4 linked regions of the Homo sapiens genome follow. The protein of the gene in region 1 purifies or fractionates together with the protein of each later gene. This does not show direct contact. Each region holds a gene or a part of one and is shown in the gene's direction. Other genes may lie near its edges.

Region 1 (3,500 bases):
GCTGAGTGTTCACACTGAGCCAGTACCATGCCCACCTGGGTGTCTCGCCTTCTGGCATCACAGTCCCAGCCTCCCTCACTCCCAGTGCTGTTTCTCGTGACCGCAGCCGACCGTGCACTCTCTGTCTCCCACCTCACGCAGCGGATGACGGAGGCTTTGAGAGTGGCGCGTACAACAACAGCGCCATCGCCACCCCGCACCTGGACGCCTTGGCCCGCCGCAGCCTCCTCTTTCGCAATGCCTTCACCTCGGTCAGCAGCTGCTCTCCCAGCCGCGCCAGCCTCCTCACTGGCCTGCCCCAGGTGAGGTGCAAGGGGCGGGAGGAGGGGGTGGGCAGGGAGTAGACAGGCTGCGTCCGGGGCCCAGGCCTCTGCCACGTCTCCCATCCCTGGGATCCCGGGGGGTGTTGCCCACTTTCCCTCCCACCTCCAGGAGGAGGCACAGCCTATGGCTGTGAGTGCAGACTAGGGGCTCCGACTCACCCGCCAGCCCTGGCTGCACTGCTGTGTGTGGCCTTGAGCAAGTCACCTACCTCCTTGTGCCTCAGTTTCCTCATCTGTAAGATGGTGGGTGTAATGAGATGCCACTCTAGTTATGGAGATTGGCGGGGCTAATGCTTTGTATGTAAACACTTAGTGCGAGGCCTGGTGGGCTCACTCAGCGTGAACCGCCATGGCCACAGTGTCCCAGGAACGCCATGGTGCAGGGAGCGGACACCGTTAAGGCACACATGCTCCTATTTTACTGTGGTAAAATGCACAAACATCAACATTCCCATCTTAGCCATTTTTCAGCGCACAGTTCCGGGGCATTAAGTGCATTCACAGTGTTATGCAGCCATCACCACCATCCATCTCCAGAACTTTTCCATCTACCCAAACAGAAGCTCTGTCCCATGAAACACCAGCTCCACATTCTCCCTCCCCATCCCCTGTCTCTATGAATCTGACTGCTCCAGGGGCCACATAAGAGTGGAATCACACAGGACTAGTCCTTTTTTTTTTTGAGTTGGAGTCTCACTCTGTCACCCAGGCTGGAGTGCTGTGGTGCGATCGTGGCTCACTGCAGCCTCTGCCTCCCCGGTTCCAGCGAGTCTCCTGCCTCAGCCTCCCGAGTAGCTGGGATTACAGGTGCGCGCCACCACGCCTGTCTAATTTTTGTATTTTTAGTAGAGATGGGGTTTCATCATGTTGGTCAGGCTGGTTTCGAACTCCTGGCCTCAAGTGATCTGCCCGCCTCGACCTCCCAAAGTGCTGGGATTACAGGCGTGAGCCACCGAGCCCGGCCCCCCTTTTGTGTCCTTACTTCACTCAGCACAATGTCCTCAGGGTTAACCATATGCTGTAGCACGAGTCAGAACTTCCCTCCTCTTCAGGGCTGACTCATATTCCAGTGGATGGATGGGCCCCGTATTTTGCTTCTCCATATTCATCCGTCAGTGGGCACTTGGGTTGCTGCTACCCTTTGGCTGTTGTGAATAAAGCTGCTATGAACATGGGTGTTTAAGGACACTTGTTCTTTTAGTCTCACTCTGTTGCCCAGGCTGGAGTGCAGTGGTGTGATCTCGGCTCACTGCAACCTCCACCTCCCAGATTCAAGCCATTCTCCTACCTCGGCCTCCCGAGTAGCTGGGACTACAGGCGCCCGCCACCACGCCCAGCTAATTTTTGTATTTTTAGTAGAGACGAGGTTTCACCATGTTGGCCAGGCTGGTCTCCATCTCCTGACCTCGTGATCCACCTGCGTTGGCCTCCCAAAGTGCCGGGATTACAGGCGTGAGCCACCACGCCCGGCCGGCAGTCTGAGTTTTTAAAATGTACACATCTTTTACAATATAAAATAACTAGGTAATAAAACAAGGCCTGACCCTGTCTTTTTCACTCTGTAACGTGTGATCATAACAGAAGAGTTCAAAAGTACGGATACGCAAAAAGAACATCAAGGCCACCCTCGTGTCGGTGCACGCCCTGCAGGTCCCCTTCTTTCTGGCGAAGTCCTCCTTTCACGGGAGGGACCCATGGGCCTATCGGGCAGGGAGTGGGAGGTACAGCCAGTGTCTCTGGGTGCTGGCCACTCGAAGTCTAAATCAGGGCCCCGAGAAGGCCCCTGGGGATGGGAGGGCCGTGGGAGAACAGGTGCGGCAGGCGGGCTCTGGCTGTCCGGGGGCCCCGGACCTCATGCGCCTTTGCTGGCAGCATCAGAATGGGATGTACGGGCTGCACCAGGACGTGCACCACTTCAACTCCTTCGACAAGGTGCGGAGCCTGCCGCTGCTGCTCAGCCAAGCTGGTGTGCGCACAGGTGAGGACCCCGTGCCGAGGACAGGGCGTGGGGTGAGGCACAGAGGCCAGGCCAGAGCCCAGGAGGTTCGGCACCTTGTACCAAGGCACGCTCAGCCCCCGTGGCCTGCCCTTAGCTCTTGTCCCAAAGGATCTGGGCCTGGGTCTCCTGGCTGGGCTGTGTGTCCACGAGAACCCACAGTGCGCTTAGGGCCGAGAGGGGCAGAGAAGGGAGCAGAAAGGGTTGGGAGGCTGAAGGGACTCTGGCCAGGCCTCTCTTCCCGCCCAGGCATCATCGGGAAGAAGCACGTGGGGCCGGAGACCGTGTACCCGTTTGACTTTGCGTACACGGAGGAGAATGGCTCCGTCCTCCAGGTGGGGCGGAACATCACTAGAATTAAGCTGCTCGTCCGGAAATTCCTGCAGACTCAGGATGACCGGTATGAGTCGGGGCCCCTGCCCCTTCCCCCTGGCGGCCGGTACCAGAGCACAGCCCGGAGTCTTCCGGCGGGATGCATGGGCCCCCACGTGGCTCGAATGGGGGCAGGGGAGAAGGTTCCAGGTACTCGAGTTAGCCTGGTCAGAGGGAGAAGGGACGTGGGGAAACTGAGGCAGTGAGGGTCACAGGTTGACTTCCAGATACAGAGGAGGAGGCAGAGCCGAGGGGCTTCCTGTGCCACGTGGCAGTGGCCCCGCAGCCTTGGCAATGAGCCTCCTCCCGTGCAGGCCTTTCTTCCTCTACGTCGCCTTCCACGACCCCCACCGCTGTGGGCACTCCCAGCCCCAGTACGGAACCTTCTGTGAGAAGTTTGGCAACGGAGAGAGCGGCATGGGTCGTATCCCAGACTGGACCCCCCAGGCCTACGACCCACTGGACGTGCTGGTAGGACGGCCCCTCCTGTGTTTCAGGACGCCCGTCAGCCCTGGGTCGGGGACCCTGGCCTCCTACGAGCTTGCAGCCCTGGCCCTAGATGATGAAGAAAGAGGCTCTGACCAAATCGGATTCAGGTTCCCAACCTCGGGGCCACAGAGAGAACCGTAGAGAGACGGGGTGGTCCGGAGTGAGGCTGTTCTGGGCTAACCCATTTGCAGGAGGCCCCGGGGAGAAGGCTGGACACCGCTCCCCCGGTCTGTCTGTTCTAAGCCTGGCTCCCCACCGCCTGCCCCAGGTGCCTTACTTCGTCCCCAACACCCCGGCAGCCCGAGCCGACCTGGCCGCTC
Region 2 (7,759 bases), on another chromosome or scaffold:
TTAGAATATGAACGTGTTCATTGTATCTACCTCCCACCTTCCCCACCTTCCCCAGCCTAATAAGGAAGAATACACCAGTCCCCCACTTATCTGTGGTTTCACTTTTCGAAGTTTCAGTTACTCTTAATACCGTACAATAAGATATTTTCAGAGAGACCATTCATATAACTTATGTTACAGTATATTGTTATTATTTTCTATTTTGTCGTTATTGTTAATTTCTGTGCCCAACTTATAAATTAAACTTGATCGTGGGTATGTATGTATAGAAAAAAACATAGTATGTATAGAGTTTGGTACTGTCTGTGGTTTCAGGTATCCACGGGGGTCATGGAACATATCTGCTGAGGATAAAGGGGAAATACACCTTAGTGTGTAGGTCGTCAGATCATAGAGGTAGACGTAACAGCAGGGATTAATTTTTGTGAATGTTTTACAGTTGTTTCATTATAAACAAAGATTTTAATAGTGGTTTTTTTTTTTTTTGCTGTAGCTAGAAGTATCAACAAGGAGGTAATAAGTATGAACAAGGAAGTAAGGCAGAGGAGCAGAATGTATTTTAGTGGGTATTACTTACATGGCTGTGCCAGATCTTAATAACCTTCAATAATGTTAACATTTAGAATTGTGGTGAGACTCAACTGCCGTGAGCTTGTGAAAGCACACAGTCTGTGCTAGGCAATCTGCTATTACTGTATTTGAACTTGGCTGCCCGTATTCTTAAATCCAGAGCCAAAGGTGAGGTTGCCACCGTTAGACCTCACCATATTCTGTATCCTCTGAAGTTGAAATTGTCCAGCTGCCTGCTATCTGATAAGGACACACCAGATGTCCAATAGCCCCTACAACTCAGAATGGTGCTGTATGTGACATTGTTGCTTGAAAGATTCATATCCCTGCTTTTTAAAGATTGTGTCCTATTAGCAAACCATAACTGCTAAATTTTATTTTAGTGAATATTTACTAGCCACTTTTTTTTTTCTTTTTTTTTTTTTTTGGAGATGGGGGTACTGCTCTGTCGCCCACGCTGGAGTGGCACGATCTTGGCTCACTGGAGCCACAACCTCCTGGGCTCAAGCGATCCTCCCTAAGTACCTGGGGCTACAGTCATGCACCACCACACCCAGCTAATTTTTTTGTATTTTTTGTAGAGATGGCATTTCACTGTATTGCCCAGGCTGGTCTCAAACTCCTGAGCTCAGGCAATTTGCCCACCTCGGCCTCCCAGAGTGCTGGGATTACAGGCGTGAGCCACTGTGCCCACCTACTGGCCTCAATATACTGTAAGGCACAGTTTTTTTGGTTTTTGAGACACGGTCTTGCTCTGTTGCCCAGGCTAGAGTGCAGTGGCACAATACAGCTCACTGTAGCCTCAGCCTCCTGGGTTCAAGCAGCACGATACGGTTCACCACAGCCTCAACCTCCTGGGCTCAAGCCATCCTCCTACCTCAGCCTCCCAAGTAGCTGGGAATATAGGCACGTGCTACCATGCCCGGCTAATTTATCTTTTATAGAGATAAGGGCACTGTGTTGCCCAGGCTGGTTTTGAACCCCTGGCCTCAAGCAGTCCCCCAGCCTTGGTCTCCCAAAGTGCTGGGATTATAGGCATGAGCCACCATGCCCAGCAAGGCATAGTTCTTAATTCATTATCTTTCAAATTAAAAAGAAAAATCAAAAATAGCATTCACAACTTGTTTTTGTAAGGGATAGCCGATGGCTTTGACAGTTTTTCCTTTTTTCATGTTTTGCTGTCTGATTTGTGGTCTCCTGTCCCCACTGGTCATCATGGTGATTTAACAGACAGTTTATTCCTAAAAGGAAGTTATGGAGGACCCCTTTTCAGGGAGTCAGACCTATTTTTTTTTGAGACAGAGTCTCGCTCTGTCACCCAGGCTGGAGTGCAGTGGCGCAATCTCGGCTCACTGCAAGCTCCGCCTCCCAGGTTCACACCATTCTCCTGCCTCAGCCTCCTGAGTAGCTGGGACTACAGGTGCCCGCCACCACGCCCGGCTAATTTTTTTGTATTTTTAGTAGAGACAGGGTTTCACTGTGTTAGCCAGGATGGTCTCCATCTCCTGACCTTGTGATCCACCTGCCTCAGCCTCCCAAAGAGCTGGGATTACAGGTGTGAGCCACCGAGCCCGGCCCAGCCATATTTTTTGATAGACTAGTGTCAGGCTGCTGCTAGTGAGACTAGAGGGCAAATGGGGAGCACGCCTCAGGTGAGCGAGCTAAATTAGAAGTGATTTTGATTGCTCGACACTCTGCTTGAAGGTGGAACTTTGCAAGGCTTCATCTCTGATGTACTACAGAAGAGAGCGCCGGTTCTTGCCCTGAGTCTGCTTCTGGCAGTTGGGTCCCTCATCGGGTATAGTCGTGAGTATTCTTTTGCAATTACTAATTCCTTTGCTCCCCTAATCTGGTTGGAATAAGGCATTTGTTTGGAGTCAGTGACCAGTGCTGGGGAGAGCCTGGAGACCAGCTTCAAGGCCCGATATGCCACCTTTGCATTGTCCTGTGAATGCCTGGGAAACCTGTCATCACATAGTTTTATTTGTCTTGGGAGGAAACTGGCATCTCTTTTGCTTTGTTAATTTGCTTAAAAGCTTGCTTGGGAGTGTATATGCTTTGTTTGGGGGAGGCTCCAGAGGCACAGCATTATAGCCAATAAAACAATAAAAAGGGAACAGGTTTCAAAAGCGGAAAGATGGTAATTAGTAGGTTTGGTATATTCCCTTAAGATGCTGCTGAGACAGGAGTAGAGCTTTTCTTTAGCTTTTAGAAGTCTTGTTAGCTTGAGCATTAGCAAGAGGCAGACGTTACAAATCAGAGTTGAAAGAGGCAGAGAGAGTTGTGTCTCTTTGTTGTCTCTGGGAGTGATTTGTGAGGTCACGGAGATTCAGATCTTCGCGTACGGTTGGCAGAGGCACGTGGAGTCTGCTTTTCAAGCCACCATGGTTTGTCTGTGTCTTCCCTCACAGGTTCTCCAAATGATAAGTCCATCAATGCCCTTCTGATGACTGTTACAGGTACGGCACATGGCTCTGCTCCACCATGCTTCTGTTGCTCTGTAAATTCAGAGGAAAAGGGAAACTGTTTTCTCCCTCAATTTGAGTAGTACCGAAACCTTAATTACAGAGAATTCAAATTTTAAAAGGAAAAACGCCTCCTTTTCCAGATTCTTTTTCTCTGCTGTTTCTTACATGACCTCCTCAGTCCTATTGTGACAGAAGCGGTCCCTATTGACAGAGATTTTCTACGATTTTTGATTGCTGCCCCAGCTTCTGCTCTTACCTCTAAAAGTGACTTAGAAAAATGCCACATGGGAGACCAATTCACCAGCTTTCAAAAAAATCCACAATAGCTCGTGTCTCCTCCTGTGTTGGAATTGGTCAGCATTTTGTCACTTGAGCACTAGATAAAATAGTTGGGTGCATTTAGGGACTATGTTATAGAAAAATTACTTACTTTATTTATTATTTATTTATTGAGACAGAATCTTGCTCTGTTGCCCAGGCTGGAGTGTAGTGGCACAGTCTCAGCTCACTGCAACCTACACCTCTTGGGTTCAAGTGATTCTCCTGCCTCAGCCTCCTGAGTAGCTGGTAATATAGGCGTGCACCACCACGCCCAGCTAATTTTTGTATTTTTAGTAGAGACATGGTTTCACCATGTTGCCCAGGCTGGTCTCAAACTCCTGACCTCAGGTGATCCACCTGCCTTGGCCTCCCAAAATGCTGGGATTACAGGCGTGAGCCACCATCCCCAGCCAGAAAAATTACTTATTTTAAACTTTCTAATTTTATTTTTATTTTTGAGAAGGAGTCTCGCTCTTGTCACCCAGATGGGAGTGCAGTGGTGCGATCTCAGCTAACTGCAACCTCCACCTCCTGGGTTCAAGTGATTCTTCTGCCTCAGCTTCCCAAGTAGTTGGGATTACAGGCGCCTGCTACCATGCCCAGCTAATTTTTGTATTTTTAGTAGAGACAGCGTTTCACCATGTTGCCCAGGCTGGTCTCGAACTCCTGACTTCAGGTGATCTGCCCACCTCAGCCTCTCAAAGTGCTGAGATTACAGGCATAAGCCACTGCGCCCGGCCAGAAAAGTTACTTATTTTAAACTTTAGATCATGCTTGGGAGAGTGAGCTGCTCATTCTACTTGGGGTACATGGAACTGATTCCAGCAGTGGGACCAGATTCACCTGGGCCATCGCATGCCTGATTCATGGGCAGCCTCACTGAGAGCAGTGGCAGATAGAGTCACCTGCTCCATTGCAGTGGCTTTTTCCTCTTTGCTCTTTTTTTTCAATATTCCTGGTTGAATTTGTGTAGTGGAATGATCATATGATGCAACTACCGTAATAGAATTTATTTGACAAGCTAGTGCAATTAGTTATTAATGAATGTAAACTTCACAGGATTAGAAGGGCTATGTGTTTCACTATTTTTGTATCTTTGGGTTCTACAAAATATACTAGAGTGTCACATAATTCGAGAAGGGATTTCAGGAACGTGGATGTTAACTACTAATAGTTTGAAAATGATACTATCTGGGGGTTTCCTTTTTTTTCCACTTCTCTCCAACATATTAAGAAAACTATTCGGATATTATTTTGCCTTATGCAGTAGATTGCTAGTGGTTGTGAATTGTGTTTTAATAAGAACCTGTTTATGACTTCAGGATTTTTTATTGGTGGACCTTCTAATATGATTAGTTCTGCTATTTCTGCGGACTTGGGTCGCCAGGAGCTCATCCAAAGGAGCAGTGAAGCTTTGGCCACTGTCACAGGAATTGTGGATGGTTCGGGGAGCATTGGAGCTGCAGTGGGCCAGGTGAGAGAACAGGAGAGGGGCTGGGATTCTAGTGTCTTCCCTCAAAGGCGGCTGAATGTGAACCTGCCCTCTGGGCCTCAGTAGGTGGCACTCTTGTGCTGTAGAACGCTGTTCCCAGAGCCCAAGGACTTCCGTCTCCCCTCAGGACCAGCTGATGCGTCCTAATGTAGAAGGACTCTCCATTGTTTTTAGTTCCTTTTTTCTACTTATACTTCTAGATTCTTCCTGTCTGCAAATAAGCTAAGACCTCGTAAGACAGACAGATCCTTCTGCCCCAGCCCACCATCCCCTTCTTTCTTTCCAGGCTGAACTTGGTATTCCGTGGTGGGGGGTGCTTCTTGTTATCCCCACCTGGCATGTGGACCCCACCATTGCTGTCTCCCGTCTCCCTCTCCCAGACACTCTACTGCATACACGTTCCTTCCTGGGCCCCGCCAGACATGGCCATGGACTCTGCAGCTGCTTCTGAATCACTCGCTCTGCTTCCTGTGTATCCAAAAATCTCTGACTGTATCTCAAAGAGTGGCCCATAAGTGTCTGGTATCAGAATCATCTGGGACACTCATTAAAGTACAGAACACCAAGCATACTACAGACTTGCTGAGTTCGAACCTACAGATCTGTATTTTCAACAAGGCTTCTTGGTGATTCTTCCACACTCAGATGTTTGAGATCCCTACACTAAGATTGGCCTACTATACTTAGAATTATTTACATTGACCTTTTTTTTTTTTGCATAAATTCAACTTTCTCTGGGACAGATATTTCTTTTCTGGCAGAGTCATGAGTCATGCCTCTTCTAGGATATACCACTACAGATTGTAGAGTACTAATTTTGTAGAAAGATGGATCTGAGAGTCATCTGTATGGATAAAAATAGTTGAACCTGTGGAAGTGAATGAAACATTTAATAGGGAAAGAGAATGTTGGCCGAGTCTCAGGGAATGCCCAGTGGTCAAAGAAAGAGGAAGGCAGCAGAGTAACCTGTAGTCAAGGGAACTGCGTTTGAGAAGGCGTTAGTAAGGTCATGGATGTAGAGAGGTCAGGAGAAAGAGAACTGAAGGATTTGTCTTTTAGGCTCTTAGTTTTGACATCTAGGAGGTCATTAATAACCTTGAAGATTATTGTTACTTGCTTGATGGGGGTGAATTGCTGATGTCTGATTGCTAGTGGTTAATGAGAGATAAGTATTGAGGTAAAGTAAGCCATGTTAATACTTTGACTACCTAGCCGTATTTTAATAGTCTATATGCACTTGTTAATGTCTGTCTCTCCCACTGTAACATAAGCTTCCTGAGCGCAGCATTTTGTTGTATGTTCTTCTGTCACCTTAGTACCTAGAACAGTGCCTGGCACACAGTAGACATTACTTGTGGAATGAATGACTGATATGCTTGGCATATTTGATTATAAGACTAAAGGGCAAAAAACCCCAAAGAAACAAAAACCTTAGCAAAGCCTTGAAAAATACGCTTACCTGATCATGCCCTGGAGCGGGAATCGAAAAATGCTCCCAGCCATCAGTTCAGACGTCTTCACCTATGGGGTAGAGAGTGGCTGCATTGGGCATCCTTTTCTGACATTATATTATTTTAAGTTATCCTTCCTTACGAATGTTTTCTTCACTAACTAAATGGGTGCATTATAATGAGTATTTCAGAGAATTTGCTTTTATTCAGATTGCCTCACCTGCCAGTATCCAGATCCCTCACTGTGAACTTGGGTCCTAGACTGACCTTCATGGTTGGGGAAGCACGTCTGGAGTAAATCACTGTTAGCTTTACTCATTCCTCTTCCATGTTGAGTTTTGAATGATTTCCCATTGCCTAAGGGGTGAAATCCCAAACTCTGTGACTTAGCGTTAACCTCTATCAGCTCTGTCCTTAGCCAGTGTACTAATTTACCCTGAATAACTTTGTTACCCCGTCTTTCCCTGACTTCCCAAGTAAAGAATTGTTTCTTCTTCAGGTTGCCATAGCAGTTGATGCGGTTCTGTAGTAGGCACCTGTCACGGTGTAAAGGTGATGCACCGTGACAGGTGCTCTGCTTGTTTCCTTCGTCTTTGTATTCCCAATGCTTAGTGCTTTTGTTGACACATACTAGGGGTTCAGTAAGATTAAATTGCAGTATCTGCCCAAGAGAAATGAGAACAAATGTCCACATTAAAACTTGTACATGAGGCTAGGTGTGGTGGCTCATGCCAGTAATCCCAGCACTTCGGGAGGCCAAGGCAGGAGAATTACTTGAGGCCAAGAGTTCAAGACCAGCCCAAGCAACATAGTGAGACCCTCATCTCTACAAAAAATAAAAAGTTAGCTGAGCATGGTGGTATGTGCCTGTCCCAACTACTTAGGAGGCTGAGACAGGAGGATCGCTTGAGCCTGGGAAGTCAAGGCTGCAGTGAGCCATGATCACACCACTCCAGTCCAGCCTGGGTGACAGAGCCAGACCCTGGCTCTCTCTCTCTATTTTTTTTTTTTGAGACAGCATCTGGCTCTTATGCCCAGGCTGGAGTGCAGTGGCAGGATCTTGGCTCACTGCAACCTCTGCCTTCTGGGACTCAAGCAATTTTCCCACTGCAGCCTCCCAAGTAGCTTGGACTGCAGGTACCCACCACCATGCCCAGCTAATTTTTGTATTTTTTTTGTAGAGACAGGGTTTCACCACATTGCCCAGACTGGTCTCAAACTCCTGGGCTCAAGTGATCCTCCTGCCTCAGCCTCCCAAAGTGCTAGGATTACAGGCATGAGCCACTTGCCTGGACAAGACCCTGTCTAAAAAAAAAAAAAAAGACAAAGTTGCAGTCAGTTTGGAGCCCCCCATGCTTCCTGTAGTGGATGATGAGACCTCTGCTTTTTTGCTACACATGATGTGATCTAATATAAATCACATAGTCGTTCTGCATTAATTTTTTTCACTTGTACAT
Region 3 (3,500 bases), on another chromosome or scaffold:
CAATCAGGAAGCATATATTGGGTTAACCACCCACTCACAGAGGTGGTAGGACTTGTGCTCCAAAGATCGGGAAATTTTCATAGCTGGAGTTTATATTGAAAGGTACTATTAGTGTGAACAAAGATTTGCAGTGGGCGTTAGTATGGCTTTTAATAATGCTATATAGAAAGTAGATTGGTCTGAGCCAACAGCATGTTCTAGAGGTTTGGTGGAAAAGGTTCAAAATAGGTAGGGCTTAGTTAGAATGGTGAAGGTTTTGACATGCAAGTGCAGGACAGTAGGTTTTACCAGAGGAGGCATCATGAAGCCATTTTAGACCTTGGACAATGATGGTTTGATTTAATGAAAATTGATATTCCTGAGTCCATACAGGTTAATGATCTTTGTCTTTATATTACTACTAACTTTTTTCTTAATAGATACAAAGCATCACAAAGACTGATCTCTCAAGATATCCATAGTAACACATACAATTACAAAAGCACTTTTTCTGTGGAAATTGTTCCAATATGCAAGGTACTTTTCTTTTTCATTTAATCCATATCTGTAAAAGAGTACAAGTAATTAATTGGCTTATATGTAATTTGTAGCTCCTGGTTTTCCTCTAGGGTTGGTTAAAAATTTAGAATAAGTTCCTTAAGTGACTTCTAACACATTCAGCCATGTTAAAAGATATATATTTTTAAAAAAGTCATGCTTATAATTATGAATTGACATGCCTTTTATTTTGGTGTATTAAAATGAAAAGACCTGGTTATAGTTGATAAAAGTCCGTATTCTTTGAAATTTGTGATCCTATGAGCCTGTATCATATAGTTCAGTGAAATTGAATAAAAGAAATGACATTAAAATCAATATTAGTGAGCCACTTTGTGGAATATGTACAAACAAAATTTTGGCAAGAAATGAAAGAATATTGTGATAATGTGAAAATGAGATCATAGAATCATTTTTATGATTTTAAAACATAAGCTGAATAAAACATTTAAAATGTAGATTATTTCATTTAATTGTACTAAGATAAAACTCTGCTTCAGAAAAATATGAATTAAAATTCAATAAATAGTTATTGAGTATCTATAGTATAGAAGGCTGTGTACTGAGGATTGTATAACTACAGGTCTCTGCCATGTAAGAATTTATATGTCAGTATTAAATCACTAAGAATGATAACTGCCATTATTGTGACCATTCTACATAAAGTTAATCTAGATACTTTAGTGTCTTTCACCTCATTCTCATCTCATAATAACTGAGGTAAGCCATATCATTTTGACGATGAGGAAATTGAAGTTTGAGGAGGTTAGATAACTTGCCCAAAGTTACATGATCACAAAATGATGAAGCTAGGATTTGCACCCAGGTCTGTGTCTCCAAAGCTTTAAAACTGCTATTGCTATTTTATAGTATGTACTAGGGATGAAATGATAGCTTAAAATAGGGTCAGCAAACTTTCTCTGTAAAGAGACAGATGGTAAATTTTTTAACTTTCAGGTCGTATAATCTCTTTTGCAGCTACTCAGCTTTGCTGTTGTACAAAAGTAGCATGGGTAATATGTAAAGGAATGTCAGGGCCGTGTTCTGGTAAAACTTTATTTACAAAAACAGATGGTGGGTCAGATTTGTCCTGAGGGTGGCATTTTGCCAACCTCTGGTTTAAAACAGTAAATGTTTCCCTGGTACAAATCTTGAGAAATATGAATTTAGGTGTGAGGGCATATTTAGGCCTTGTGTAACTGAGTTTTACACATGTAAAAATTAACATATGTATTAAACTATGTAAAAAAGTATATTTGTTTATCTTTGGAAACTCATGTATTAAAAACCAAGGACTGAACTAAGAGCTGTTATGATTGTGAATAGATACACCTTAAAATATAACTCAGATCTTTTTTGTATTTTAATTCAGTTTAAAAACAGATAATTACGTTGCTGCTTCATGTCTCCCAATATAAATGTAGACATGTGACTTTTTTGGGCTTAAATCTTTGATTGTATATTGGCACATGTAGCCATGTAAGAGAAATGTGTTCCTTTGAAGTTTATTTTTTAATGGAGATTGAAAGAAGTCACAGGTGGATTTATAGAATCACTCTCCTGCTAATGTTTATAATACTCTGTTTAGAATGTACACTGTATTAACATATAGAGTGATAAGAGGCATTCACACTGCAATAAAATGGAAATAATAATAGCTTGGTGATTTGGGCCCTGGATTTTTTTTTTTTTTTTGAGAGACAGTTTTGCTCTGTCACCTAGGCTAGAGTGCAGTGGCACCACCTTAACTCACTGAAGCCTCGACCTCCTGGGCCCAGGCTGTCATTCCACCTCAGCCTCCCAAGTAGCTAGGCCCACAGGCATGCACCACCACGTTTGGCTAATTAAAATATATATATATATGTATATGGAGACAGGGTCTCCATATGTTGTCCAGGTTAGACTTGAACTCCTGGGCTCAAGGGATTCTCCCACCTTGTCCTCCCAGATTGCTGGAATTACAGGAGTGAGCCAGCGTGCTCAGCCAGGATTTTTTTTTTTTTAAAGCATTTTTATTAAGACAAGATGCCTGTCATACTTAAGGTCTGATTCTTTTCTTTAGTCTCTTTGTTGATTGATAGAATTGAAAATAACGTTTTGGTTGGTCAAATGCAATTGGATTGGGTGTTTATTGATGAGTGTTTATTGGACTGTTATTTAGGATATGCCTCATTCTAAATGTTAGTTCTTATGCCTAGGATAATGTTGTCTGTCTGTCTCCAAAACTGGCACAAAGCCTGGGAAATATGAACCAGATTTGTGTGTGTATTCGAGTAACCAGTGCCATTCACCTCATTGATCCAAACACCCTACAAGGTAAATTCTGGAAATGATTTGCCTTGACAATTTTGTTTTGTATGACAAACAATAATAATTTGTGTTGTTAATTTTTCAAGCATTCTTGCTAATATTGTTTTGAAAGGTTAGTTAAAATTTGTGCTATTGTTTAATACAAAACATTGTGGAATTTGCAAGCTTTGATTAGTTACTTTTGTATTTTTTATTTAAAGAAACAATTCTGTTAATTTTTACATATTTACTGGTTTATTCCATTAATTTTTACTGAAATTGACTTTTTTTTTTTTTTTTTTGAGATGGAGTCTGGCTCTATTGCCCAGGCTGGTGTGCAGTGGCGCAATCTCAGCTCACTGCAACCTCCGCCTCCCAGGTTCAAGCTATTCTCCTGCTGCAGCTTCCCAAGTAGCTGGGATTACAGGTGCCTGCCACCATGCCCAGCTAATTTTTGTATTTTTAGTAGAGACGGGGTTTCACTGTGTTGGCCAGGCTGGTCTTGAACTCCTGACCTCGTGATCTGCCCGCCTCGGCCTCCCAAGGTGCTGGGATTACAAGCGTGAGCCACCATGTCCAGCCTGAAATTGACTTATTTACCTCATTTAATTTTTGTGACTATTTACTTAAGTCCATTGCCAAAATTTGGTGTCTAGCAGTTATTTTAAATTTTG
Region 4 (3,500 bases), on another chromosome or scaffold:
TGGTATGTCCATACAATAAGATACTACTCATCGATAAAAAGGGACAGACTACTAATGGCAACAACATGGATGAATCTCAGAAGCCTTTTGCTAAGTGAAGGAAACCTCCGCCAGACCCAGAAGACTACATACTGTATGATTCAAGTTATATGGTGTTCTGGGAAAGGCAAAACTATAGGGACAAAAAAACCTGGTCCGTGGTTGGTGAGTTGCAGGGAAATTTTTTTGGAGGTGACCGATGGAACTATTCTGTATCTTGATTATTGTAGTGACTATATGCTTTGTCAAACTCACAGAACTGCTGAGCACAGTGGCTCATGCCTGTAGTCCCAACACTTTGGGAGTCCGAGGTGTGTGGATCACTTGAGCTCAGAATTTTTAGACCAGCCTGGGCAACATAGTGAGACCCCATCTCTACAAAATTAGCTAGGCATGGTGGCATGCACCTGTAGTCACAGCTACTTGGGAGGCTGAGGAGGGAAAATTGCTTGGGCCCAGGAGGTCAAGGCTGCAGTGAGCTGTGATTATGCCACTGCACTGCAGTCTGGGTGACAGAGTGAGACCCAGTCTCAAAATATAAATAATTAAAATAAATCAGGAGGCTGAGGCACGAGAATCTCTTGAACCCAGGAGGTCGATGCTACAGTAAGCCATGATTGTGCCACTGCACTCCAGCCTGGGTGACAGAGTGAGACCTGGTGTCAAAAAAATAAATGATTGGTTGGGCGCAGTGGCTCACACCTGTAATCCCAGCACTTTGGGAGGCTGAGGCAGGCAGATCACAAGGTCAGGAGTTCAAGACCAACCTGACCAACATGGTGAAACCCCATCACTACTAAAAATACAAAAATTAGCCGGGTGTGCTGGCATACACCTGTAATCCCAGCTACTCAGGAGGCTGAGGCAAGATTATCGCTTGAACCCAGGAGGTAGAGGTTGCAGTGAGCTGAGTTCATGCCACTGCACTCAAGCCTGGGCCATAGAGTGAGACTCCGTCTAAAAATAAATAAATAAATAAATAAATAAATAATTAAATAAAAAATAATTTGGGCACAGTGGCTCATGCCTGCAATCCCAGCACTTTGGGAGGCCGAGGCGGGCAGATCATGAAGTCAGGAGTTTGAGACCAGCCTGGCCAACATGGTGAAACCCGTCTCTACTAAAAAGACAAAAATTAGTGGGCATGGTGGTGTGCACCTGTAATCCCAGCTACTGGGGAAGCTGAGGCAAGAGAATCGCTTGAACCCAGGAGGTGGAGGTTGCAGTGAGCTGAGATTGCACCACTGCACTCCAGCCTGGGCAACAGTCTTTTTGAGACAGAGCAAGACTCTGTCTCAAAAAAAAAAAAAAAAAATATTGGCCAAGTGTTGTGCCTCACACCTGTAATCCCAACACTTTGGGAGGCCACTTTGGGTGGATCACCTGAAGTTAGGAGTTCGAGACCAGCCTGGCTAACATTGCGAAACCCTATCTTTACAAAAAATACAAAAATTAGCTGGGCGTGGTGGTATACGTCTGTAATCCCAGCTACTTAAGAGACTGAGGCTAGAGAATCACTTGAACCTGGGAGGTGGAGGTTGCAGTGAGCTGAGATTGTGTCACTGCACTCCAGCCTGGGCAACAGAGTGAGACTTTGTCTCAAAAAAATAAATAAATAGGACAGGTGTGGTGGCTCACGCCTGTAATCTCAGCCCTTTGGGAGGCCGAGGCAGGTGGATCACTAGGTCAGGAGTTCGAGACCAGCCTGGCCAACATGGTGAAACCCTGTCACTACTAAAAATACAAAAATTACCTGGGCGTGGTGGCAGACGCCTGTAATCCCAGCTACTTGGGAGGCTGAGGCAGGAGAATGGCGTGAAACCGGGAGGCGGAGCTTGCAGTGAGCCGAGATCACACCATTGCACTCCAGCCTGGGCGACAGAGTGAGACTCCATCTCTAAATAAATACACAAATAAACAAACAAATAAAATAAAAAATTAATTAACCTCACAGAACTAAACACTGAAGAGAGTGAATTTTACTGTATGTGAATTCGTTGTATTCTAATTTAAAAGAAAATCACTCAGGCTTCAGGTTAATTCCTTGGCAATCATGAACACTCTGTGGTGTATAACTTACAGGACAGGGATATCTGAAGTTTCCTGGAGCAGGAGAAGATGGGGTGGGCACAGAACCTCACCAGCTGAACCAGCTGAACTATGTCTTTATAGGGATTTTGTCAGGGAGAAAAAGTATCGGACAGAAGCTGAGATGTTTGGATGGAGCTTTGTCTTTGAGGACTTTGTCTCTGATGAGCTGAGAAACAAAGCCACCCAGCCAATGAAGGTGAGAGAACCTGGTCTTGCAGCTGAGGGGATAGGAGTGGGACCTGGACAGGGAATCCTGTGGGACATGGGTTACCTGGGACACAGTGGAGAATCAGACCTGAGAGGTGGAGGCAGAGGGGAAGCAAGAGAAACTCACCATGGAGCGTCAGATCAGTACACACTCCCAGGAAGTTAACCCTGAACCCAAGTTAGCTCTTGCCTAAATGTCCAAGTCAGGATAGGATCCAAGGAACTTGAATCAAGAGATCACCTTGGTGGGCCGAGCGTGGTGTCTCATGCCTATAATCTCAGCACTTTGAGAGGCTGAGGTGAGTGGATCACCTGAGGTCAGGAGTTCAAGACCAACATGGCGAAACCCCGTCTATACTAAAAATACAAAAATTAGACAGGCATGGTGGCACGCTCCTGTAATCTGAGCTACTCAGGAGGCTGAGGCATGAGAATCGCTTGAACCTGGAAGGCAGAGGTTGCAGTGAGCCGAGATGGCGCCACTGCACTCCAGCCTGGGTGACAGAGTGAGACTGTGTCTCAAAAGAAAAAAAAAAAGAGAGATCACCTTGGCAAGCCAACCTCTAATAAGGGTGGTAAGATGGGCTCTATAAAGATTCCAGTCTCAGCTGGGCGCAGCAGCTCACGCCTGTAACCCCAGCACTTTGGGAGGCCGAGGTGGGACAATTGCTTGAGCCCAAGAATTCAAGACCAGCCTGGGCAACATAGATCCCATATCTACAAAAAAAAGAAAAAAAAGAAAATTAGCTGGGCATGGTCATGCACACCTGTAGTCCCAGCTACTCAGGAGGTTGAGGTGGGAGGATTACCTGAGTCCAGGAGGTTGAGACTGCAGTGAGCTCTGATGGTGCCACTGCACTCTAGCCTGAGTGACAGAGCAAGATCTTGTCTCAAAAAAAAAAAAAAAAAAAAAAAAAAAAAATCAGCCACAACCTCACTTAGACCACCTGAGTCTCAGCCTGACGTCTCTGTTCTGCGTCCTGTGGCTCAGTCGGGGAGGTGCCTTTGCTGGGCCGGAGCATCTTGCAGTCGGTCTCCTTCTTTTTCGCAGTCTGTACTCTGGTGGCTTCCAGTGGAAAAGGCATTTTGGAGGCAGGTAAGGGCTGATTCCGCTACCTCATTTTCTACCCCTGCTTGACTCTTATTCTCCAGGCCCAGCCTCC

What was found.
Region 2: the proteins of SGSH (region 1) and SLC37A3 fractionate together in Homo sapiens (co-fractionation; one large-scale study listed by BioGRID). This does not show direct contact.
Region 3: the proteins of SGSH (region 1) and NMD3 purify together in Homo sapiens (affinity purification with mass spectrometry; one large-scale study listed by BioGRID and IntAct). This does not show direct contact.
Region 4: the proteins of SGSH (region 1) and SUMF2 purify together in Homo sapiens (co-immunoprecipitation; one study listed by IntAct). This does not show direct contact.

What each region holds. Positions count from the first base shown.
Region 1 is NC_000017.11:80,213,834-80,217,333, reverse strand, and holds part of SGSH (N-sulphoglucosamine sulphohydrolase isoform 1 precursor), read left to right. Parts: intron 1-141; coding exon 142-302; intron 303-2,195; coding exon 2,196-2,301; intron 2,302-2,568; coding exon 2,569-2,719; intron 2,720-3,005; coding exon 3,006-3,162; intron 3,163-3,448; coding exon 3,449-3,500. UniProt on the Homo sapiens protein: Catalyzes a step in lysosomal heparan sulfate degradation.
Region 2 is NC_000007.14:140,340,486-140,348,244, reverse strand, and holds part of SLC37A3 (sugar phosphate exchanger 3), read left to right. Parts: intron 1-2,274; coding exon 2,275-2,376; intron 2,377-2,981; coding exon 2,982-3,029; intron 3,030-4,681; coding exon 4,682-4,833; intron 4,834-7,759. UniProt on the Homo sapiens protein: Unlike the other SLC37 members, lacks glucose-6-phosphate antiporter activity.
Region 3 is NC_000003.12:161,238,311-161,241,810, forward strand, and holds part of NMD3 (60S ribosomal export protein NMD3), read left to right. Parts: intron 1-419; coding exon 420-516; intron 517-2,735; coding exon 2,736-2,853; intron 2,854-3,500. UniProt on the Homo sapiens protein: Acts as an adapter for the XPO1/CRM1-mediated export of the 60S ribosomal subunit.
Region 4 is NC_000007.14:56,070,786-56,074,285, forward strand, and holds part of SUMF2 (inactive C-alpha-formylglycine-generating enzyme 2 isoform b precursor), read left to right. Parts: intron 1-2,211; coding exon 2,212-2,326; intron 2,327-3,388; coding exon 3,389-3,433; intron 3,434-3,500. UniProt on the Homo sapiens protein: Lacks formylglycine generating activity and is unable to convert newly synthesized inactive sulfatases to their active form. Inhibits the activation of sulfatases by SUMF1.